3 separate regions of the Homo sapiens genome follow, and regions 2 and 3 are each linked to region 1. The links come from fine-mapping of genetic effects on gene expression. A gene starts in region 1. Each other region holds a variant in brackets. All regions are shown on one strand. Distances are from middle to middle. Region 1 holds the start of AP5M1 (adaptor related protein complex 5 subunit mu 1). Region 2 overlaps AP5M1 (adaptor related protein complex 5 subunit mu 1). Region 3 has its middle 40 kb from the start of AP5M1.

The links.
Region 2: its variant is fine-mapped to the expression of AP5M1 in whole blood (TOPMed, PIP above 0.99).
Region 3: its variant is fine-mapped to the expression of AP5M1 in whole blood (TOPMed, PIP above 0.99).

The regions. Positions count from the first base shown.
Region 1 is chr14:57,264,580-57,273,060 of GRCh38, reverse strand. AP5M1 (adaptor related protein complex 5 subunit mu 1) reads right to left here and starts at 4,090. Exons shown (of 8, transcript NM_018229.4): 1 at 3,673-4,090. The coding sequence starts at 3,746. It overlaps EXOC5 (exocyst complex component 5), which reads left to right and starts at 4,156. Exons shown (of 18, transcript NM_006544.4): 1 at 4,156-4,439. The coding sequence starts at 4,413. RefSeq lists enhancers at 3,926-4,125, 3,773-4,356 and a silencer at 4,666-4,725.
Region 2 is chr14:57,286,221-57,294,701 of GRCh38, reverse strand. AP5M1 (adaptor related protein complex 5 subunit mu 1) reads right to left here. Exons shown (of 8, transcript NM_018229.4): 7 at 8,383-8,479; 8 at 1-5,900. The coding sequence ends at 5,818. Among named protein-coding and RNA genes, the nearest start is that of AP5M1, 21 kb to the right of the region's middle. The variant C/T (reference allele first, on the strand shown) is at 4,618.
Region 3 is chr14:57,304,382-57,312,862 of GRCh38, reverse strand. No RefSeq gene overlaps it. Among named protein-coding and RNA genes, the nearest start is that of AP5M1, 40 kb to the right of the region's middle. The variant A/C (reference allele first, on the strand shown) is at 4,172.

The DNA.
Region 1 (8,481 bases):
GGCTGAGGCAGGAGAATCTTGAACCCGGGAGGTGGAGGTTGCAATGAGCCGAGCCGAGCCGAGCCGAGATTGTGACACTGCACTCCACCCTGGGCAACAGAGTGAGACTCCATCTCAAAAAACAAACAAACAAAAAGAAAAACACCAAGCAAGCAAGCAAGCAAACAAACAAACAAAAAACCCAAAAGCAGTTACCCATGTGTAGGTAAATATCACCTACATTCTGATGCATTTTCTTGATTAAGAAAGGGGAAGAATCAGGTAGCACACCAGTAATGGCATGGCATAGCAGGTAAATGCCATTTATTTCTCTAAATCTCTGTATATGAATAGTAGAGATCTCTGGACTAAACTCTAGTCCAATCTCTTATTATCTAGTTTTCCAGAGGGTAATTAAAGTTCTTAAGTATAAAAATTTCACAATTGACTGTGAAGATAAGTTAATCTGGGAACTTACACAACACCCCAATATGTGTTCAATAAATATTTTGTTGGATGACTCAACCTATCATTTCTAATTTATTATATGCTTTTTCTAAAACAGGATTCAAGGCTTAAATGGGCCTACAACTATGGGGTATGATACCGACCTAAGCCAGATGTAAGCTGATGCTATTATTATCTGGAAAGCAAACCTTTAAACCAGAATCTTAACCAAGTTTTGTTATAGGAAATAAGTACTTAGATAGAGAAAACATCATTTGCCTTCTTAAATCTTAAATATTGGCCACTTATTGACACTTATAAAGTGTCAGTGCCTATCTGTGTAGCTCTAACACCTCCCCCAAGAGGTTAGAAAACTGAAAATATAATAAAATTTAACTAAGTCATTCAATGATACAGAATTAAATTATTTGAACACAACTTGCTACCTCCATAAATGTATTGAAAAGCCCATCCAAACATATCTGACTTTTTATTCTGAAATAATATCCTGAACACAGTGAAAAAACATTCTGAAAACTAGGATTTAAGAAACTTATTTACTTAAGCAGTAAAAAGTTCACCTCTATGAAATATTAAGATAAGCTACAAAGCAACAGATATTGTATTGGTACAAGAAAGACAAAGTACTAGAACTGAGACAGACCAACATTTATATGAGGGGACATAACTAACACTACCAGTAGCCTCACAAATTAATGAAGACATGACATACTGCTTAAAAGATGATGTCAGAAAAACTGACCCACACTACAGAGAAAACCGAAATGGGATTCCTACTTAACATCATATCCAAAGATGGACTACATATGGGTTAAAGACCTAAATGTAGCAGATGAAATTATAAAGAGAAGACAATGTAGGAAGATATTTTTGGGAAATATGGGTGAGAAAAAACTTCAACAAATTCCCAAAAGCAATTAACTAGTTTGATTGCATCAAAATTAGTGATTTCTGTTTAACCAAGGGCAACATAAAGTTAATTGACAATGGTAAATTAAAGAAAATATCTGTACTATCTAAAAATGACATAGGACTAATACCAAGAATACAAAACAAACTCCTACAAATTCAGAGGAAAAAATAAGCAACTTTCAAAGAAAAAAAGGACAAGACATGTACAGGCAATTCACAGTAGAGGAAACTTAAAGGACTAACAATCATTGCTACATACAGAAATGCAAACGAAAATAAGATGTTCTTTATTGGCAAAAATTACATGTTAGGAAAGAATGGAGATACGGGAACCCCTTCTTGCTGCTAGTGAGTGCGTAGGTGGCTGAAAGCATTCTGTGGAGCAGATTATTTGGCAGTCTTTAGTCAAAATCGGCATAGACATGCCCCATGGACAGATTTGAGGATGCATACTTTGGCAGTGTTCTTTGGAGGCAAATTTGGGAGAGGTCATCACTAGGTAAAGGGGACAGGTAAATGTGTAGGATGTGAACCATGAGTACTACAGAGCAAGAAGAAACAATGGCCTAGATTTGCACTGTCCAACATAGTAGAACTACCCACATGTGGCTATTTAAACTTAAATAAAAATCAATTAACATTACCCAAAATTAACAATTGAGTTCCTCAGTTATGCTAGCTGCAGCTCAAAAGCTCAATAGGTACTTGTGGCTAGTGGCTACAGTATTAGCCAGTACAGATTAAGAACATTTCTCCTTTCCATCATCATAGAGAATTCTATTGGACATGCTGCCTTAGATGAACACAAAGTATCATGGATGTTTCTTTAAAATAGTGTTGAGAAATGTGACAAATGTAACATTAGGAAGTGAAGTCTAAAGCACACTTAATTATGTAATTTGAAAAATGCATACAATGAAAAAGAGTAACATCGAAGATGTTAAGAGTTATCTGTCAGTGGGAAGGGAACGGCAGTTAGAAATAGGTAACCAAAGGGAATATAAGTAAAATGAGAGATACTTTGTACGGACTGATGCGCCTGGTAAAACCACGTACTAAAGAATATTATTAATCTCCTGTATTTGAGGTCCAACAACAAATGTTGGGGTTAGTGTCAGCCAGAAATCCTGGGGGGAAATGGTAAACTCCAACTCTGATGCCCTCAGGAACAAAAACTGTTAAGGTTGCAAAGAAGGAATTTTTCATATCCCCATTGCCAACCAATTTTCATTTAAAATTAAAATCTTTTTTTTCTGCCTCAATCTCAATTCTACTATGGTACTACTTCACTATAAGCTTTCTTCAGGGAAGAACGAATTGTGACAAAAAAGAACTATCAATGGCCAGAGAATAAAAGGTGAAATAGACCCACTCGATTGCCACCAACATTTTACAATGAGTTACTGTACAATTCCCTTAACAGAGCTATTTTGATTACACAGGGCAAATTCTAATAGTGGGACCAGATCAACTTAACACAATATATGAAATAGTGAATACATTTTTTTGTGTTTCTATTTTCTTCAACAATTAGGAACTGTAAACTGATGATTTCTACCATTGACACATATTAACAAGATAAAAATAAAAGCCTGGGCGGGGCGCGGTGGCTCCTGCCTGTAATCCCAGCACTTTGAGAGCCAAGGCGGGCGGATCACGAGGTCAGGAGATCAAGACTATCCTGGCTAACACGGTGAAACCCCCTCTCTACCAAAAATACAAAAAATTAGCCGGGCGTGGTGGCGGGTGCCTGTAGTCCCAGCTACTCGGGAGGCTGAGGCAGGAGAACGGCATGAACCCGGGAGGCGGAGCTTGCAGTGAGCGGAGATCGCACCACTGCACTCTAGCCTGGGGAACAGAGCGAGACTCCGTCTCAAAAAAATAAAAACAAAAAAATAAAAGTCTGATATAACTTAGCATGGATTTTTCAGTAGAATAAGTTAAAATGTTCTGGAACGATTTTGTCAATGCATGTTGAAAAATCTGAAAATGTTTAGTGCTCAGTAAATTTTCTACCGTTCCCTTAGTCATCTCCATTTTAATTCTAAGCAGACGGAGGTCATTTTAAAACACAATACTAATAGAAAACATATACCGTAAATAATATGTACCAGTCATCAACTCAATTCTCACAACACTGTAAGGTAGGACTATTAAAATCTCCATTTAACAGACGAAACAGAGGTCTGTTAACTGGCTAGCCCAAGGTCACGCAGCTATTCGTGGCAAACCTGGGCCACGAAGCACCACAAAACTATGCTACTTCATCGATCTTCTGATCCATCATCCCTGAGGATTCAGATTTGCATTTACCTGGAGAATCTCACGGTGCCACAAAGTGGAGTTCCCGGTTCGTGGCTTATGAGCCACACTGCCCGCTGCGCCATGGTTAAGTCAGTAAAGCATTAGCTCATCTCATAATTAAGGTCGCCACCGAGGAACAGCGCAGACCGGCTTTCTCAGACAGACTCTTAACAGAAGCCCTGAGGCTCATCCTGCGCCGCATACCGGTCGCGCTCAGCAGAGAGGTTAGCTTTTTTAGGTGAAGTCACTAACGCTTCTGAGTCGCTCTAGGCCAACACACACCACAAAAAGTTCTAAGAACCCCAACCTATAACCTTGAGAAATTTACCTATACCCTGCAACTCCGGTATTTTCTTCCTCTAAATTCTACTTCCGGAATGGTGGCCCGCAAGGATCAAAGTTCCTCATACACGGTAGCGTCGAGCCTTTTTTCGGTTCTTTCGCCGCTCGTTTTATTCGCCGGCCCCTCCCGACAACCTCCCTGGCGCGCGCAGTTCCACTTCCGGCGTATGAGGCGGTGACAATGGGAGCAGCGCGGGCGGCGCCGGGAGGCAGCTGACAAGCGTTTGCGGCTTCGCTTCATGGCCGCTCTCCCGCCCCTCCTGGGATCTGTGGGGAGCTGGGGAGCCCGCAGCGGCCCGGAGCCGGAGCTGGCGAGCCGAGCGGAGACCTGTGCGCCGCGCCTCTGAGGCGCAGCATGTGAAGCGGAGACGGCATCCAGTGGGGGGCGAGCCTCTCAGCCGGCCGGGATGGCTACCACGGCCGAGCTCTTCGAGGTGGGCCCCGGCGGCTCTACAGGGAGTGGCAGGCCCGGGGTTTGCAGGCAGCTGGGTGGGCGGGCCGAGGAGCGGGCGTTTGCTGGCTGCCCAGGAGGAGCCCTCGGGAGAGAGGTGCGAAACAGAAGGGTTGGGGTGGCAGCTCCGTGTCAGCGCGGGCGGAGCGTGAAATGGGGGAGGGGTGCTTGGGGCCGAGGTGGGCTGGGCGGCCGGTCGGCAGAGAGGGGAAGCCGGGTGTCCCAAGGGAGGAGGGTTGCTTTTGTTTGTGGGGGCAAGAGGGAAAGTCTGGAAGGTTCGGGTGTTGGAAGATGTCTACTCCGGATGAGTAGTGGGAAGGGCTGACTCAGGACGAGGAAAGAGAGCCAGGAGCCTCAGGTTGGGCGAGTCTTGTCGCTGGGGTCCTCGCGGGAATAATAGGAGGAAGCCACTTGAGATCGGGACTCTTGGGGGCTTCTCGTTTTGAGTAATTATTCCATTAGTAAGGTTGCAGGTGGCATTCATAGGACTGCCAGTTTAACCTGACATTTGAAAAGGCTGGGACAATTTTTTTTTTTTTGGACAATAAAGGCCTACTTATCTCTTTCGACTGAAGAGAGATAGACTGAAGGGAGGCAAAATTCAAGTGAACACTTTATTTCATGTAATACATAATAATACACTCGAGGCATTTACGTGTATTATAAAATAAAAAAAGTTTATAAAATAAAACGAACACTTCGTTTCATGTATATAATGCACCTTAAGTGTATTATATGCATTTACATGTATTATAAAATCACCTAACTGCAAGCTAGAGAATCCTTAATATGTAATAGTGAGAATACTAATGTCTTTCCTCGAGCGTTTACAGTATCTAAACCTTAAAATTTAATTTCGTGAAGTCCGTTGTAAGAAGCTGTGATAAAAGTTTGAGATAATAGAATAGGAAAACTCTAATTAGGCTACAAAACAATGACACGTATAAAGCATCTCCTTGTGTGAAAGAAATGAAAACGGATAAGAAAAAGGAAAGAAAGACCCCTTTTTTGTGTGTGTGCTTGTGTTTCACATTGAGTAACAAAAGTGTAATAATTGAGAAGACTGTAATCCACAATAGGGAACTTCTCCATAAGTGAAAATGGTATCCTTTTTCTGCGTAAGATTCAGCAGTTTTTGTGGCTTACAATTTGAATGCCACAGTTTTAATAACAAATGGAAATTTACATTTGTTATTGTTACTATATTTTGCATATCAGTCAGCTTTTGGATAGATAATGCTTTTTTTGAGAGGAGTAATATATGTTATTGTTATAATAAGTTGTAATAAGACAGTAATTTGTGAATGAAGGATTGTAATTACAAGAAAGACTTCAGAGATATTGTATTTTCTCACTTAAGTGTTGGGAGATATGCTACATTAATTTCTGTAATTCCAAAATTGTGCCATCTGTTTATTGACACAAGAACGGGGAGACATTTTTCCTGCTAGGAACTTTTACTGTGTCCCTAGGTACTAAGTAGTGCTGTGGTTCCTTGTTTTATTTTTCACATCTTAAAAAGGGAGAAAACGATGAAGTTGTATGAGATCTTTAATTAAGGTATTTGCCGGCAAGCCAGCTCTTAACTGAAAACTGTTATATATGTTGTCATACAGTTCATAAGACATTATCCTTTGAGTTAATCCTGCTTGACAGTTCCAGTTGTACCTTGGACCATCTTATGTATATTTTTATTTAAATGTTTGACCACATGATTTCAGTAACTTATTTGGAAATATGTTTGATTTTTTTTTTTCCCCTCTCCCTAGCGGGGAAGGGGAGGAGGTGGGGAAATATATATTTTGCTTTCTGGGGTCCTGCTATTAGGTTAAGTAGTATATATATACGTTTTATATATATATATATATACACACACACACATACACATATATATATATAACGTATATATAACATACATATATATAATGTAATTTAGTGACTCTAGTTACATGGTAGCCAGTAAGATTCTGTGATAATAGAGACAGTAGCCCTTAGACTACCCTTAGGCCAGAGGGTTTTTAGGACAAATTTAAACGTATTTATAGATCTTAAAACTGACGTGACTTTTTTTCTTGACTATATGTAGCTTGTTGCTTCATCATAATTAAAAGCATAATAGTTACAATTAAGTTTCAATAGTTATAATTAAGAAGTGCATTTATCTTTTCTGGTACTGCTATGAATCCAGCCCTACAGTGGACTCTACTCTTGAGTAAGTTTTCATCCCCAAGTGAAAAGTTGATCTCTTGGCCTTGGAGGGAGGAGGAAAAAAAATCCTGTCACTGCTCAGTTTCCTGTAACTACTGCCATAGCATCTAGGTTGTAGTAAGAGTCACGGGAAGTATCTTTTTCTCCTGCTTCCCTTTCTTAGTCCCAGCTGGAGAACTGTGGAAAACGGAAGGCAGGATGTAGTCAAGGATGTTTGGTTTTTATGCATCCTGATTTTCATGCACTGTTAAATAGAATTATGCTTTCACTTTTCATGTTAGGAGAAGTTAAATGAAAACAAAATTAAGCTTTTGAATCCATGACATTTCATTATGTTAACTCTGCTTCTTTTAAAATCTTATTGGTCCCATGACTCTCAATGAAAACAACTTCATATAACAAAATCAAACTGTAATATATTTCCTCAGTTGACCGAAATGATTTAGTAATAGATGATTTGGCTATTGTAATAGTGTATATCCTGGAAGTTTCTCAGAATACCTTCTTAGTTTCAACTTTTGTTGACAGATCTTTCTGAAAAGATCCATGTACAGTGTTTTAAAATCTCCTCAGGATAGACATTCTGAGTAAGGATTCTTATGTGGTGTAGATAAATTGTATCTTCTACATATACAAAGTGGCTGGGCTCAGAAATTCCTTTTCTTTGTTTTTGAGACAGGGTCTTGCTCTATCGCATAGGCTGGAGTGCAGTTGGGTAATCACTGCTCGCTGCAGCCTCTACCCTCCTGGCACAATCCATCTGCCCACCTTAGCCTCCAGAGTAGCTGGGACTAGAGGTGCCTGCCTCCATGCCCAGCTGATTTTTAAAAATTTTTTGCAGAAATAAGGTTTTACCATGTTGCCCAGGCTGGTCTTGATCTCCTGGGCTTAAACAATCTGCCCACCTTGGCCCCACAAGGTGCTGGGATTACAGGTGTGAGCCACCGTGCCCCGCCAGTTCTTTTTATGTTGTTGCAAATGTTCCTCTCTCCTTTTATTGTACTACTGAGGACATTCTTTCCTCATTTGCTTAATTTTTTCCCCCATAATTCTTCAAGAATCTTCGCTTTTCTCTGTTTGGGCTACCATTACGGGAGAGTTCTTGGTTAGTAACTAGGGTTAATTATTCATTCATTCTACAGATATTTGTTGAGTACCTTTTAAGTTCAAGATAAAGTTCTGAAATTGACGAGGCTGCATGTCTCAAAGGGCATGCCATAGAAATATTAATCCTATGAGATGTGTCGCAAAAAAAAAAAAAAAGGGTTCAGTGACCAAGTAAGTTATGGAAATGAGCATAGTCTGTTTCGTTGGAGATTTGCGGTATACCTTAATATGTTAAAGATGATGAGAAGTCCATTTCCCCAACTTTTTTCACCATGAGACTGTTTTCTTTCTTTTTTAAAGAGACTTTTATTTTCTACTGCTTGTTAACTTAATTTTGTGAATTACAAGGTACATATTTTGGAAAATAGAATTAAGTATAGAACTTGTCCTTATCAAATAGAGGGAGAGAAGGTGGATATATGATACTATACTCTTAAAAATAAGGTTATAAATGGTTTCAAAGAGGTCTAGATGTGCCATAGGTGTTGAGAGGATGGGAAGATTGCCTCTAGAAGAAAGAAAGGATTAGAAGGTGGCATTTGAATTACCTACAGAGGATAAATTAGATTTGAGTTTGTGGAACTGGATGGAGGGACTTTTCAGTAAAGCAGACAATAAAAGCTAAGACATAAAGGGAGGGTTGTAGGCCCTGGAGATAAGGGGAGCATTCATTTTGGCTGGAGTATATATAGCACACATAAAGAGGAAGA
Region 2 (8,481 bases), 22 kb before region 1:
TGTGTTACTATAGTTCCAACATTTAAAGAGCCCCAGCTAAGTAGTCTGGAAGTTCAATGGTATCACATTCTTCACACTAAACACACCTATAAAACCAGTGGAGAAAAGAAACTCCAACTTCAACCACTGGCAAATTAATAAGAGTTAATATAAATAAATTAGCTCACACTTTCTTTGAAATTGGGTGTAAGCAGGCTATGTGTATGAAAGAGAAAAATCACAGGGTTTTAAAATAGATATAGTCACTAATTATCTCTTTATAACCTGCAGAGGGCACCCAAGTCCTTTGAAGGAAAAAGTAAAAATTTAAGAGGAATAACTAATTTTTAAATTTTTCATAACAAAATTTATAAACATAAAATATCATTTAAAGAGGCCATTTAAAGGAAACATGTAGTTTTGACTTTAAATGTTCAACAGATTAGAAGTGCAAAATTTCACATCCTACTGGAAAAAAAATTCAGCAGGTGGTTTTTAGTGTGGAGCATTTGTCCATCTGTAAATGCTTGTGCATCATACATTAACATGACACTGATGTCAATTAGGCAGATTAGCTAGGGCATTAGAGAAATCAACCAGACCTTGCAGTATCCTGCTTATAAGGCAAGAAGCTAGTGATACAGATACAGCCTTGTATTGTTCCAGGCTATACACAAACACTAATGTTATATCCATGAAACAGCTGGTGCGGACAGTTGGAGGCTAGTTGGAAAGCCTTCAGGTCATAAGAGTTTTAATCACTTTGTTTCAATCACAAAGGAACTCATGAGTTCCTTTGCAATTTTCAGTTTAATGAATCATTTCATTACTATTAACTAATACTGTGTTTGGAGGAAAGATATTTGAATATTTGCCCTTAAAATATTCTTCATCTTACATGATACTGACATGTTTCACAGGGAAACCCACCAAGTCAGACACACTAGTGTTGTACACATTTACGTAAATTCATATACTTGTATATATATGTTGTGTGTATATATATATATATTCTGTGATGGTGAATTTCAAAATATATCCTGTTTTATTGATTAAATATGACTGCACGGAGTGTAATGATTAAAAACACTAGTTTCTTAGCAACATAGCCATGGGAACCTGCCCTCTATCTTTATAGAATGCCGTTATCTTGTATTTTTCCTGATCCGCAATTCTGCTGTGGTTTAGGAACTTGCTATCAAAATATATTTTGAAACTAGTTATTAAATTGAAACTAGAGGAGGCTGGCTTGGCACAAACGTAAGTTAGGTATGCACTTCTTTGAGTCATTGTTTCAATTTATAAATTAGATCACAAAAAGTCTGAGCCAAAAAAAGTATAATAATCTAAATACATCCCTTGTATTGCAAAATGCTACTAGAACAGTAATTACTAAGCATTAAAATGCTGTATATAACTAAATCATTAATCAAAATCTAATCTTTAAAAACATATTTTGTAACAAATCACTATACTTTTTTTTTAAAGGTCTTAAAATATACTGGAGGAATAAATCCCGATTTGACATCTTACAAGATAAAGACTGACATTGCTATTGAAACAGTTTTAAACAGCAAATTGAGAAACCTACCATGAAACATTACCTTTTCTTTCTCAAAATACTGTGCAAAATTCCATATAATATTTCAAAATTTAAAATTATGGAAGAAGAGGTACTCAGATAACTGAGAAAAAGGCAGGCAGAAAAAATTTAATTACTCGGCTATTTTGGTAATGCTGTCACTTTTTTTTTTTAAAAAAGCATTCTGAAAATGAATGCAATTATTCTTATAATGGAAACACAAGAAGCTCCTTTGCCTCAAGAAAAGAAATAGTTAACAAAGCTTCGAAATCATTAGTCTTAAGGTGGATAACTGTGTACTGCAACACATTTTCCTCAACTGGATTTCTTTACCACACAGTATGACATTTTCTAATGGTGGTGGTGGTGGTAGGGGGAAAGGTGAGAAGAAACCATGCAGCTTAATAAAACAGAAGCATTTTCTCAGTCTAAGTTGTAGCCACTGCTTTGATTTTTGGTTATGTCAAGGCCAGTTAAGTATACCCTAGTGCATGAAACAAAACTAGAAGCAATACTTAGAATGTAGTCTTTGTTTCTTCTTTCTTCAAAGCCTATGTTTCCTAATATCATTGTTAGGCGAAGCAAAAAGAAATGTTTGTTCTATTACGTAAGAAATAAACTTCATTTGGTATTCAATTGACTTTCTAACTTAGCAGACAGGACTTTACATCTTCAAATACTGAAAATAAATTGCATTCTTGGCCCTTGCTTTAAAAGGTTATAGAGAATAAACGCACACCCTGGTAGTGTTCTAGTGATCTCCCTAATCTCAGTTGCACTTTGTCAGAACGAGGTAACTGGTAGTTAAGTGAAATACCCTAGATCAAAGGGGGATTAATCACCAACTGAATCCTTGCTGAATAAACCTGTCATTCAAGAAAATTATTTCCACTGAACTTAGCAGAGGATTGAAGGTATTTGCATAACAGGGACCAACGTACTTCAGCCAGGTTAAAAGGTTCAGAATTCATCCCATGTTTAGCTTTTTGCCTCCTTTTCCTTTCAGCAGCCTGGTACAATGGTTTCTAATCTGATAATACAGCTAACTATCTAAATGATGTCAGAACAGGAAAGTATTGCAAAGTTTGGATGAGGGATGGATCAATTTCACTTTCAGTAACTCCTAAATCTGATTTGTTGGAATTTAAGATGTAATCCTAAAAAAGTCCCTTAAACCTGAGGACTGTTTATTAACACCCCTTTTTTTGACCTTTGTCTTAGGAACAACCACTCTGTTGTGGCAGCAGTCCCTACAGAAGGCCTGGATGATAATTCCACCTACCTAGCTCCCAGGGGTAGTGTAGGAGTCTATCAATGTCTACGAAGTATTTTGAAATACTACAACAAAAACCAGAAAAAAAAATTGGCAATTGTTACCAAGTATAAATGTCTGCCTTGAAAGATCTTAAATCATACAATGTATAAAAACACCATAATTTTAACCTAGTAGAAATACTGAATTGGTGTGAAAAAAATGAAAACGATTTTATGGGACAGACTAATGTTTAATAAAAAAAATTTTTTAAACAAATAATTGTCATCAGAATTCCTGACAAGACTGCTTCAAACTTGACATTTGAATCAATTACTTAAAAAGTTAAAAAAAAATTGCCACCACCGTAAGGGTATTGCCTAAGTACTATATTGCTGGCTCTAAAAAGTTTTTAAAATATTGTTTAGTAAAAAATGGAGAAAAGAAGCGTTTACAAAATCATGAACGATCTTTTCTGGAGTTCATTCTAAAAAATTAACACTTTTTTTTTTAACCTTTCGAGTTTATTGAAGAATAATTACCTATGTGATAGACATCAGATTTCATAATCATATTTTGGCACTAAAAGGGAATTTAGCAATTTTGCATCTAGAGAAGGTCTGACACTATCCAAATCTTTCACTGGAAGTAGTTGCTCATATTCACTGCAAACGCAAAGCATCTTTCAAGTTAAAAAATGCAAAGAATAGTTATCAAAGAAAATGAATAAAATCCATAGTGAGATAATTTTTTAGAAAATGATTGAAGTTTTAACCCAAGAAAGGACTCTTAGAGTGTCTTATAGCTTAGAATAAGAACATGTCAATCACGATTAAGCTTCTGGAATCGGAATCCCTTTGAAATGCAGCTGTTTCTTCTTTAATTGTGGCAACGGACTCTGAAGAAAGGAAAGGTCCAGCCTTAAAGATGAGTAAGGAATACAAAATAGCTCAGGATTAGTTGTGGAGTTCAAAGGTCGCTAATTACACTAAGGAGTTCCCAGACACAGGGAAAACATTAAACAGGTCACCTACCAAACGGGAAACAGACTTTGTCTTCAGAAATTATCCTGAAGTGACAGGTTTCTAGACAAAATCAAAAGCATCACAGTGTGCCCAGCTGATCTCAATGGGATGAAAACCTAAGTTGGTTCAGTTCTGTAGCACTATGTTAGAATGGAATGGCAACAGATGGCATCAGGTTCCCCAACACCTCATCACTTTTCCAGGACACCCTAGATTTTCCTCCGGTTTCTAGAAATGTCAAATAGAAGATTCACTGATTTTTCTAACTGCTTATAAACTTTTGCCTAGGGGATTATTATATTAAATCTTTGCCTACTCACTAGATAAATGCCTCTTGCTTACCTTAGTGTATTTGGTAAACATTTATACAATCAAGATTCCAAATGGCTCCATTACCATTAACTTATCAACATAAGTGAAATGTTAAGCTTTGAGTTTAAGAGAGATCAAATAACTTATAGGGAATGATATTTTCTTCTTTCAAAAGGAAAGTTTTCACTGCTGATTATCTATGATTAAGCTAGAATAACAAGTTAAAATCCTGGTCAGGCAGTTATTCTTTTTTTCTTTGTTACTTGGGATAATTTTGAACATAGAACCTTATGCCATGATAATGCTTTGCAGAAAATGAGTTTATGAGTAGGACTGACCTTAATTAAAAAATCATATTTCAAATCCTAAATTTATATGCCCTATACCTTTAAACTATCATGCTTTCTTCTGAGGAGTTAGCAGCTTTTCTAAGCTTTTCCTTAGAACACTCATTAAAAAACAGAACC[C/T]AAGATATAATCAAATTGAGTATTAATCTTTAATGCATTTTTTTTTCTCATTTGTAAAAAGACATGAATGAAGTTTTGAGGTTCGTGAGATTTCATCTTTTCTTGAATGGTCACTTAAAGTCCAACTTGACAATGAACTGCTCTGAAAACATAATATGATATATAATTGCAGAAGCAGGTAGAGTATAAAGATGATGACTAGATGGTTTCTGAAGAAATCAAGAGAATGGTAAGAAAGTGAGAGTGACAGCTTTAAGGAGATATATACTACATGTGACTAAAATAAGCTTAAATGATACTCTCTACTCACAGAGTGCCTTTTGAATTTTTACCAGAATTCATTCATTAATTTTAACTTAATAAGACACAGCAAGAGCAGTATTAGGTCTAAATTACCTTTAAAAATTTGGCTGCAGACATTAAATGATTACAAAACACTATGATCATCTTCTGAAGGTATTCTACACATCTTAATATGGCTACTGACATCCTAAGCAAAATGTCAAAGTGGCAGATTAACAAGCTTACTTAAAAACTAACTCTAGAACAGAGATTACACACCTTAAGTAGAATTATGCAGATTATTTATTAGTCAATAGGATAGTTCTGATTAAGAAGAACAGCTTACTATTTAAACACTTTTCCTTTGTCTCTGTTGGCTGTTTTTTGAAGAGATGTAGTTGTCTCTAACATGGTCTCTGGTATTCTGTAACAACACCTTATACTAGGAGCTTAGTACTTAGATTTGGAAGAGAAAATAGTTTTTATCTTGCACATTATCTACAACCCACTGGGAGTGGCTGCCTGAATCTCTGAACTAAAAAGGAGCCTGACCCTTTATCCAAGGCTCAGTACAGAAAAGGGCTGTAATTGATTAGCAATGTCTGCCACAGAAACACTAGGAAACAAGTGTGGCAGGGTGACCCAGGACCAGTCTAAAATGAGCCCAAGTGAATCATTACTTTTCTATGTTCTGAATTATACTGGCATAAAATCGAAGGTTAACAAAATTGGAGACATTAGCTTTTAAAATGTCCTTTCAAGCTCTATCAGACTACAAACACCACATAAGACTACTTTTACAATTAAATCATTCAGTGATTTTTCACTCACAGGTTATATGCATCCACATTAAAAATATAAGATTATGATTTTCTTTAAACTGTTATCATTATATAATCCCATTTAAACATGAGACTATTACAATAATAATGATCCATATGTTACTGGAGCAGGGGCTTTAGAATTCCAGATGTAATAATCAGAAGAAATTAGTTTCCGGTCTAAAGAAAAGAAAAAGAAATTAATGATAAGACTATTTCAGCAAAAATTCAACGAGAGCAAAGTCATGATTTTTGAAATTGTGGAATGCAGTTATTTCAAGTCAATACTTTGAAATATTCATTTTAATTTCATATTATCAAGACTTTATTATAACTTTTACCATTTTACAAATATAGACTCATTAAATATTTGAAGAATCCATCTTTGACCTTATATGAAATATCTCTCATTTATGCCAAATCTGCCAATTTTATCTTCACATTTTCTCTAAAATCTTTTTCGTATGGACCATTACTCTGACTGCAAAAACATTAAAAATTTTTCATTGGTTTCTCTTCTATAACCTTATCACCATAGCCCTGATTCTGGGTCTTGCTATTCTTTACCCAAAGTGTCAGAGATATAAATTAACACCTAACTTCCTAGCAACATTCTAAATAGTTTGCTTCACTGGTTTCTTATTATAGTTCTGATCAATTTAAGCCTTTTTAAAAATAGCTTTGAAACTCTACAAAAATGGCAACCTATTTGAACTAAAGTTTTCTGATATGTAAAGTTGAGATAATAATGTTCATTTGGAGTTACACATGTAAATTCTTTATATATATATATAATTAAATATCCAATTAAATATAATTATCCAATTCAGCCTGTTCTACCTTTCTTCTTCATGCCCTTCTTCATAATGAAAAGAATATAGACTATATTGTCTTTTTTGTTCTCTTCAAAGTTTGAGAACGCAGTAACAATGAGAGGCAAGACAGCATACTGTTAAGTGGACAGATTCCAGAGCCAGAATGCTTGAGTATCTGACTCGCAGTTCTGCCATTTGCAAGCTATGGGACCCTAATCTCTCAGTTCCATCAGTGTCCTCATCTGTAAAATGGAGATAACAACACTTACATAGGGTGCTGTGAGGATTAATGAGACAATGCACATAAAACACTTAGAACTTTGCCTGGCATATAGTAAGCAATAAATATTAGCCATTATTATTTAAATTGGTATTATTATTACTAAACTATTTTTAAACTAAGTTGTATATTATGAAAATAGATTTTATTGTCAAGATGATGGCAAAATAAAGTTTTACATAATTGCACAAACTGGCAGTCACATTCTGAAACTAACAGAGGAAAGAAAAGATGGGTCATAATATTAATTTAAAATGAGTTCTTTCAACATATTTTGTATTAAGAAGCAGGTATGTTCCTATCTTGTATTATGTTCTCTGGAAATTACTGCAGTATGTTTAGTTAACATAAATAAATTATTTTCCCATAGACAATCTAAAATACTGGTCTGTTTGCTTTCAGTCTCTCATATATACAACAAAAAAATGATGTAAGAGAAAACACAGGGCAAGCCTAGGGAAGTAAAGAATACTGGTTTATTCTGGTTACATTACATAGTAGAAATTATATTGACAAGCACAAATAGTTGCTTAGAATTCTGTAGTTCTGAGTTCTCTAATTCTCTTGAAATGTACATGGAGAGTCCTTTCCTATTCTTTTTATTTTAGGAACCCTAATCCTTAGTTTAAGAAATATTTATCTAACTATAATAATAAAAATGTGTGTAAATTGGGATTATTCTTATCCACATATATAACAGCTTTATTCTCCTTAATGTATGAGGCAAAAAGGTTGTTTAAGTTTAGATAACTCTACCTCATTTTAGCTACTATTCGATGTTACATATTTCTATTTGATCTGAATTAAATACTTTTGATTCATTTATAAATTGTTTTTTGTCTCATATTTTCATATGTTTCGTGTGTGTGTGTGTGTGTGTGTGTGTGTGTATGTGTGTGTGTACACACATATAGATCTATACTTTACCAACCATTAAACATACTAAAATCAGGAAACGTCTTTTTTATTGTCTTCCTATTGATAGAATAGAGAAGGTGCTAAATAATGCTTATTGATTGCAACATTTGCTAAAGATATTTAAAAGTTTTAAATAAGAATCATCTCTAGTATCTACTAAATCTATACTATACACTAAGCATCATACTAAGTCAATATAATCTTATCTAAACCTCATAACAATCCTGAGGTAAATCGCACTATTATTTCCATTTTATACACAAGAAAATTAAAACTTCAAGAAGTTCGCTAACTTGCCCAAAGTTATACAGCTAATGAAATGGCTGAGCCAGGCTTAAGCCCTGTCTGTCCAACATCACAGTCTCTGTGAATCACATCTCTGAATAACCAGAGAAAAACAAATCCAATTTTACACTGAAGTTCCCCTCTATCCCAATCTTTGCTTATCCAGACCACTTTATAAACAAGAAGGCGGCAGAGGGCAGTGTAAAGTACACAAACTGTTATGTGGGGTAGAATCAGCCCAGAATTTTATAAATTGGGATTATTCTCTAATCTCTAAGTTCTGTTACATTCAAATTTTACCTTAGGTAATAACTGCAAACACCATTTTAATTCCCTTAAGTTAGTTTGAATCTGTGTAACTTACGTGCACTTATTTTTGGTTTTCCTGATGCAAAAACTTGAACTGAATGCTGATCTGCATAACATCCAGTAAGTGTGTAATCTAAGATCCTAAAATGAAGCT
Region 3 (8,481 bases), 40 kb before region 1:
AATATAAAGATGTTCCCTCGAGTCATGAAATTGAATCACTGTCAGGACTCAGTTTTAACCTGAAATTTAGAATTGGCCTTAGGAAAGACTGAGTAATTCAAGATGCTGATTTTCCCATGATTGAGGTCAAATCAAAGATGGAAAAAACATAGTGTAATAATTGTTAGAATGAGTAAGAAAAATCTTCCTTAGGTACTTTATGTATTGAGATTTCTACATGCTGTAGTAATTTTTTTCTTCTTTTCTTTTACTATTCGACCCAAAAAACTAATTAAGATGAAAAAGAGAAAAACTTTTTTTTCCCCCTGAGCATTTTCAAGATAGTCTTGTGAAAATAACTCTCCTTTGAAGGGGTGTTAAAGTCCCCCAGGATTCAAATATAATAAACTTGATGTCACACAGTCAAATGTCCATAGAAGCTACCTGGGTGTAAATAAAGAGAAGCAATAGAGCAAGAGACATAATATATGGCAGAAGGCCCTTGACCTTAGAGTTGAGGGACCACAGAAAGCAGCAGGAACTGTGGAGAACTGAACAGGGCATACCCTATTTAAAGAGGGTCCTCGCTATTGAACTTCAACCTCTTGCTGCTTTGTGGAAATGAACAATCCAAGTTGTCAAGGGAAACCAGAAATCTGTGTTTTTAATATGAAAATTTAAAATAAGATATTAAAACAAAATATTAAAATGTTAATATGAAATAGCCCAATTAAAACATTTTAAACATTAAAAAGTAGCTAAACTTTTTTTAAAAAAATACTGTGCAGGCCAAAGAAAATGTATTTGTGAAGCAGGCTGAGTTGTAGGTCTCCAGTTTGCAACCTGTGCCATAGTCTTCTATTTGCCCTGGATTCATTTTTCAAGATTATATAGGGCCATTCACAATTGTCATGGCAAATGTAGCCCCAAAGATTGATATTCATCTCTGGAAATATTAGGCTTAGCAGGATGCAAAAATGGGAGATTCCGACTTACTAAAAAAGTGGGCCAAAAATCCTATATGCTGTTTGCCATAAGAGTTACACTATTTTTTCACAAAGAGTTTTGACTCCATTTCTCAAAACCCGCCAGCTTTTTCACAGTGCTTCTAATCAGAATTGAATTTTTTTGTTTTTTTTTGGGGGGGGGGGACGGAGTTTCACTCCATCGCCCAGGCTGGAGTGCAGTGGCACAATCTCGGCTCACTGCAAGCTCCACCTTCCGGGTTCACACCATTCTCCTGCCTCAGCCTCCCGAGTTGCTGGGACTACAGGCGCCTGCCACCACGCCCAGCTAATTTTTTGTATTTTTTAGTAGAGACGGGGTTTCACCGTGTTAGCCAGGATGGTCTCGATCTCCTGACTTCGTGATCTGCCCGCCTTGGCCTCCCAAAGTGCTGGGATTACAGGCGTGAGCCACCGCACCCTGCCTCTGATCAGAATTGATCTTGCAATGCTGTACAGCTGTATATAGGAGTGAAGAAGCTCTCTATCCATTGTTAGGAAAGGACTGCCAATATATATTCTTAGGTGAAAAAAATCAAGGTGAGGAACAATGTCTAGTGTGCTACTTTTTGTGTTAAAATAGAGGAAAATAGAGACATATTTGTCCATTTGCTTGTATATGCATGAATAAAATCTAAAAGGTTACGTTTTAAAAATTAGGAACGACCTGTGGGGTACTGGGCAGATGGCCGGGCGCGGTGGCTCACGCCTTAATACCAGCACTTTGGGAGGCCGAGGCAGGCGGATCACGAGGTCATGAGATTGAGACCATCCTGGCTTACATGGTGAAACCCTGTCTGTACTAAAAATACAAAAAAAAATTAACCGGGCGTGGTGGTGGGCGCCTGTAGTCCCAGCAACTTGGGAGGCTGAGGCAGGAGAATGGCGTGAACCCGGGAGGCGGAGTTTGCAGTGAGCAGAGATTGCGCCATTGCAGTCCAGCCTGGGTGACAGAGCGAGACTCCGTCTCAAAAAAGAAAAAGAAAATGGGCAGATGGGAACAAACTGGAGAGAAGGCGTTCATTATATACCTTTTCCTTGAGTTATGATATCATCTTTTTGAAAAGTTAAATTAAAAATTATTCTATTTTTAGCCACGTGCAGTGGCTCATGCCTGTAATCCCAGCAATTTGGGAGGCCGAGGCGGGCGGATCACTTGAGGTCAGGAGTTTGAGACAAGCCTGGCCAACATGGTGAAACCCCGTCTCTACTAAAAATACAAAAAATTAGCCAGGCATGGTGATGCATGCTTGTAATCCCAACTACCTGGGAGGCTGAGGCAGGGGAATCGCTTGAACCGGGAGGCGGAGGTTGCAATAAGCTGAGATTGCACCATTGCACTCCAGCCTAGGCGACAAGAGTGAAACTCTGTCTCAAATTTAAAAACAAACAAACAAACAAACAAACAAAAAAACCTATTCTCTTTTAATCACAAATCCATACCAAACTAACTTAAGTTTGAAAAGGGTGGTGTATTGCCCTATGTACCTGAAGAGTCCAGGAGCAGGACTAGCTGCACAAGGCATGGCTGGATAAATTAGGACTTTTTTGCTTTTGTTTTCTTTCCTCTCTAACTCTCAACTCTCAGTTTGAGGGTGTTGGCTGCATTCTCTTACAGCAGATGCTGCCCCCTAAGATTCTGGAAAAATGGTTGCAAGATGTATGAGTCACATGCCTACAGTGGCTACAATCTATTATTATAGATTGCCAAGGAGGAAGAGAAAATATCTTTCTTCTTTGGTAATAAAGTCCAAAAAAGAACTCTGGATCATCTTAGGCTACATACCCATCCCTGATCCCTGAACCAATCATTATGGTCAGAAGGTAGAGCACTTTGATTGGCTAGGCTTAGGTCACATGGGGATATTTAGCTTGTCTTCACTTGTACCACATAGAAAGGGCAGGGATATTCCCTAAAGCTAGGGGTGATGGGCCATGAACACAAATCTATTATAGAACCAAATGGGCTCAAAGTTAAAGCAACCCTTCTAAAACCCTGTGGCTCAGATCTTTATTAAAGACCTGCTGCAGAACTCAGGGAGCTGCAAGATGCCAGGTGCATGGAAAATGACCATTAATCCTCCAAAAATACACTCGCAATTTACATAGGCTGCAAAGATGAGACTAGAATATGACATCTTTTCCTAGGCCCCTACCTGATTAAAGTTGCTATTTTGCATACCAGGAAACAGAGTAAGCCCGTTTTCCTCACAGATTGTTTATTTCACTCAGGTATAAATTGTTTGAAAGCCCAAACTAAAATGATGAGAGAAAAGAAGAAGCAATACAGCAAGCTCAGATTTCAGAAATGATGAATTAATGTTCACCAACTTGACAGATTTTTCAAAAATAAAAACTCAGCTACGTTCATTAAAAAGTCATCTAGTCTGATGACTGAAGACAAAAGAATGAATGTCCTGTCAGTGAGTTAGCTAGTTTATGCATCCTGCAGCTTTTTCAGGACCTGGGGAAAACTCATTTGCTTCAAGGACTGATTCCTCTCACAATGCATAAGGTGTGGCTATTTTTGAGTGTACCTAAATTCTCTCTTGAAGGCTGAATCAAGCCACTTGAAACCCTTGAAATATCAGTTTCTCTGTCTTTAAAATTGAGATGATAGTTTTGTTTTATAAAATTGTTGGGAGCTGCATTAGTGTCTGCTATAGACTGAATGTTTATCTCTCTCCACAAAGTCTGTACATTGAAATCCTAACCTCCAGTGTGATGGTGTTGGGAGTTGGGACCTTTGCATGAGTGGAATTAGTGCCCTTATAAAAGGGACTCCCAGAGAGTTCCTGTTCCCTTCTGCCACATGATGTTACATGAAAAGATGTCTGCCTATGGACCAGGCAGCCAGCCCTCACCAGATGCCAAATCTGCTGGCATCTTGATCTTGGACTTCCCAGCCTCCAGAACTGTGAGAAATAAATTTGTACTGTTTGTAAGCCACTCAGTCTACAGTAGTTTGTTACAGCCACCCAAGTGGATTAAGACAGTATCCTACTTAGTCAATTGGGTGGCCATGTTTGTGGTAATTTGTACTGCATTTGTACAATTTGCATTTGTACACTTTGTGTAATTTGCAATACAAATGAACACAAATGTAGCTTAAAACAACACAAAATTATTATTCACAGTTCTGGAGGTCAGATGTCCAAAATGGGTTGGCAGAGCTGCATTATTTCTGG[A/C]GGCTCTAGAGGCAGAAGCCATTTCCTTGCCCTTTCCAGTTTCTAGAGGCTGCCTACATTCCTTGGCTCATGGCCATATCACTGATGTCTCTCACAGTTATATCTTCTTTTCTGACTCTGACCCTTGTGCCTTCCTTTCAGAATGACTCTTGTGATTACACTGGCCCAACCAGGTAATCGAGGATAATCTTTCATATCAAATCCTTAATAACATCGGCCATGTAAGGTAACATATTGACAGTTTTTGGTGACTAGGATATGAACATCTTTGGGGGACCATTATTCTGCCTACCACCAGAGTAGAAAATGAAATAATGTCTGTGAATTTTCTTAGCACTGTGCTTGCCACATATTAGATACTAGATTAATGCTGATTTTAAGTTTCTAAGTTTTATCAATTCAGATATTTGACCATGCATCCTGTCTAGCCTTACATTTTTGGATGTTTGATATCCTGGTAGAGCAGAATATATAATATTATATTCCCATGAATACCAACCTAATTTTTTATACTTATGAGCTCTTTGTACTTGAAAGAGATTGTTTATCCAAAAATAAAGGGCAGTCCTTGGATGGAACTATTTTAAGCGGCAAAATTGCCAACACGCACATTCTTTTCAGCTACTCTGTAAGGAAGACCAAATGTACCACATGGATTGTGGAGAATTTTCAGAGGATACTCAATGTCTTAAAGAATGTTCCATCTTATAGATGGCAATAAAAGAGTTAATTCATCAAGGTACACTGCAGGAGGTCAAGATTTGGCAGTACAGGTGTTTGTACCTTAGCACATCTCCCCATTTGTCTTTAGGTTAACAGGTTCCAAGGGCATCGCAGTGTCCTTCTTTTGGGGGGGGTCCTGCTGGCCCAAAATTATACTCAGCATGGCCCAGTGGCTCTGATTCAGGGGGTTGAATGGTGAATTTTGATGCTTTTCTCCTGGCCTATTATACTCCAAGGACTTTAATGGCAAAACAGAACACGCTACCACATTGAAGAATGTGCAGTGGACTTTGAGAGCCTCCCAAAATGATTCATGAAGCCTAGTCATATATCTAAAGAAAGGTCAAGATTAAGGCTTTATGTATTCTAGCAGAAAAAATGAACGCCCATGATTCGCAGAGGGGTCAATCTTTGCAGTAATGAAGTTTATATTTGGGATGATGGGCCATCCCTCATATATGTTCTTTTGGTTAATAATAGTCTTTGTTTAGTAGTCACTCTCCTAGGAGGGAATGCTAATGTAATACTCACTGAGTTTTCTGCTGCTGGCTGGAGATTATCAATAGGTCATAAATAAACTACCATCACATAGAAAAGACAGTAAGATTATATATACTCCTACTACCTCCAATTACTGTAAGAGTAACAATTATAAGGTTGTACTCCTACAGCCACCCTAGGGCGAAAATGAGAGGAAAATGTTCCATTAGCTTAATGAAGAGAACACGGCAGAGCCACAAATTTCCTCACTATTAGCACCCATGGTGTGCCCCAGCACAGGAGGGAAGCTCAAGTTCCAGGGTAACAATTAAACTTTCTGACAATTAGCCCCTGCAAGGTATGGTCTCTGAACCTAAAGGAGACATTTCAAGGAATCCCATTTACATTTTTCTCACCTCTTGCCTCTGAAATTTGAGTCATTTGCTTGTGGAAACGGAGGGCATCAGGGCAAAAGTTTCTTTTACAGATGGCTACAAAGCATCATTGGCAGGCTTGCCAGAGAGCACCCATCAACTGAATGCCCCTGTTAGTAGAAGGGAGGGTTAAGAAAGGTGAAAGATCTGCAGAGAAATGTTCACACCAACCTAATTAGGGAAAAGATGAACTGGATCAATGTGAGTACTTCAGCTTTAGTGTTATTTGCGTTAGAAAGAAGACCACTGAAGAATAAAAATAGATGTAAGTCCTGGCATTGCAACTGTCAAAGAGTCAGGTTTGCTCCTGGCAGGCCTTGTATTAGAGGGAGAAGAAATCAGGCTCCCCAGACAGGCTGCCCTGTGTTCACATTTTGGCTCTACTCTCATCAAGCCCCGATTTTTCTCCTCTGCAAAATGGAGGTACCAGTAGAACAAACTTCCACGGTTTTGGGGAGGATTAAAAGAGAAAATCCATAGAGATTAATCAATAGTAAGTGCTTGACAAATGTTAGGTATTATTATCTAGGTTCAGAATTAGCCTACAACACCATGCATTTGTATAGCATAAGTAAATATGTGTGATAATGAATACTCTCAACATTTCCTTTGCCAAAATTTCCATGTTCAAACTTTACTTGGGTGTAATTAAATAGTTTACTTAAGATCCTCTCAATTTAAGAAGTAGGGTAGAATATTTATACAATTTGGAGATGTAACATGTCTGAACTGTTCTACAAATTGATCATAAATATATGGATAAATATGGGCAAATAATGGACTTTTCTCTCATTATCCAAAACATAAGGGGCTTTTGTTTGGTCCAACTTCTTTACCCAATTAAATGGAATACTGATGTTGAGCACACCAGTCCACTACTTCTCTTGCCCCTTATTGCAGCCAGAGCCTGTTGAAAAGTGGGTGGTCTACTGCCTATCTCTCTGGGCAAGACAAAGCAGCTCTTAGACAAAGCCCAACTTCTCTTCCTTGGAGCTGACTTTGACCATGGTGCAGCTCTAACGTACGCCTCTTTCTCTTTTATACCCCACATCTTCCAGGGTAGCAGTTGGCCTCAGCAACTCTAGATCAGTCACCTCATGAATGCAGTTCCCCCTCCCCATAATTTTGCTCAAAATACTCTCAGTGGATCTCCTGAATTGAAAATTTCCAACCTCTGACTTCCAATTATAGTTACTAATAGAAAGCTTAAAAAAAAAGTCAAATAGCAGACTATCTTATTGAGAAACAGTCTTGCTTAGGATACAATATTTCAAGCATTATCTTTCATACCTGTGGATTTTACACTGATGTTTCAGAAGGTAGTTGGCAATTGCAATTAGGCTTTAGGTGTTTTGTGAAACTACAACAGTTGTTTTTTTAAAAAATCTTTTAAAATAGCAAGATACTGAGTTTGAGAAATAGAAGTACTTCTCAATGATACCTTTGCCTGTCCTGTGACACCTAGATGTCCTTGTCATGATTAAGCTTGGGCCACTTCTTTTTCCCGGTGTGTGGATTTTGCCTTTCACAGCACTTGCTTCTCTTTTCCCAATCATTAGAGGGTTCACTTTTGCCCCCTGCTACCTGGCTCTCCCCCATTTTGTGACCACTATACATTACGTTGTAAAAATTGTACCCCACTTCCATTCCTAGGACTCTTTGTCCTGATTACCCCTCCCCTCTTTTTTTAACTCCAAAGAATTTATCACCACCTCATATACTATGTATTTTACTTATTTACATCTTTATTTTCTATCTCATCTTACTGTAGTTAAGCTCCTTGAGATCAGGGGATTTTGTTCTATTCATGCTGATCTCCAGTGACTAGAATAATGCCTGGCACATAGTAGATGTTCAACAAATAGTTATCTATAGGTAAAATGTATTAATTTTTAAAATTGTGACCCAACCTCCAAAATTATAGATGAAGATTTTTATAACTCAACTTCCTTAACTATGAACCCTGTCATCATTGTCATCATTACTTTTTTCTTAATTTGTCTCATCTCTCATGGCTACTAACAATAAAATTTGATACCTACACTAATTTAAAAAGAGATCTAATTTAAAAAAAAGAGGTTGACTTTTTAAAAGATTTAAAAAGAGATGGATAAAAAAACAGATAATCTAATCGTCTTGCTTCCACATTTTTCAGATTTAGAAACTGAAAATAGATATAATTGTGATTGCACAGCTACTTGCACTGTGTGGATCTTGGGGAGTGGGGGAGTGTTGTTTTAGTTTTAAGATGGAAAAGCCCTGTGACTTTATAAAAAGATTTGATAACCTGTGCTCATGAGGATAGATGCTCCCATAAGCTCATGAGCCCTAATTCCCTGTTTGCAATCACGAGTAATAATTTTGGCTGTCCCTTTATCAAGGTGGATGGACCACATGAGTAGGATGAATAAGGAGGTGCTGATGTAGCATAGTTTGAAAGGTATCTAACAGTATGGAGGCCCTATAGCCCCAAATACAGAACACTGTCAATGTCAGAAATCGCACCATTGGCCTTTTTGCTCAGCTTTACTCACTTTGCAACATTCTATCTGAAAAGCGAATCCTCTAATATTAGAGCACGTGAAGTCGCTAATACTTCAGTGGGGACACAGAGACTTGGAAGTGATTCCCAAAATCTAGGCACACAGAAGTACTGAGATTTTAGGTATGGAG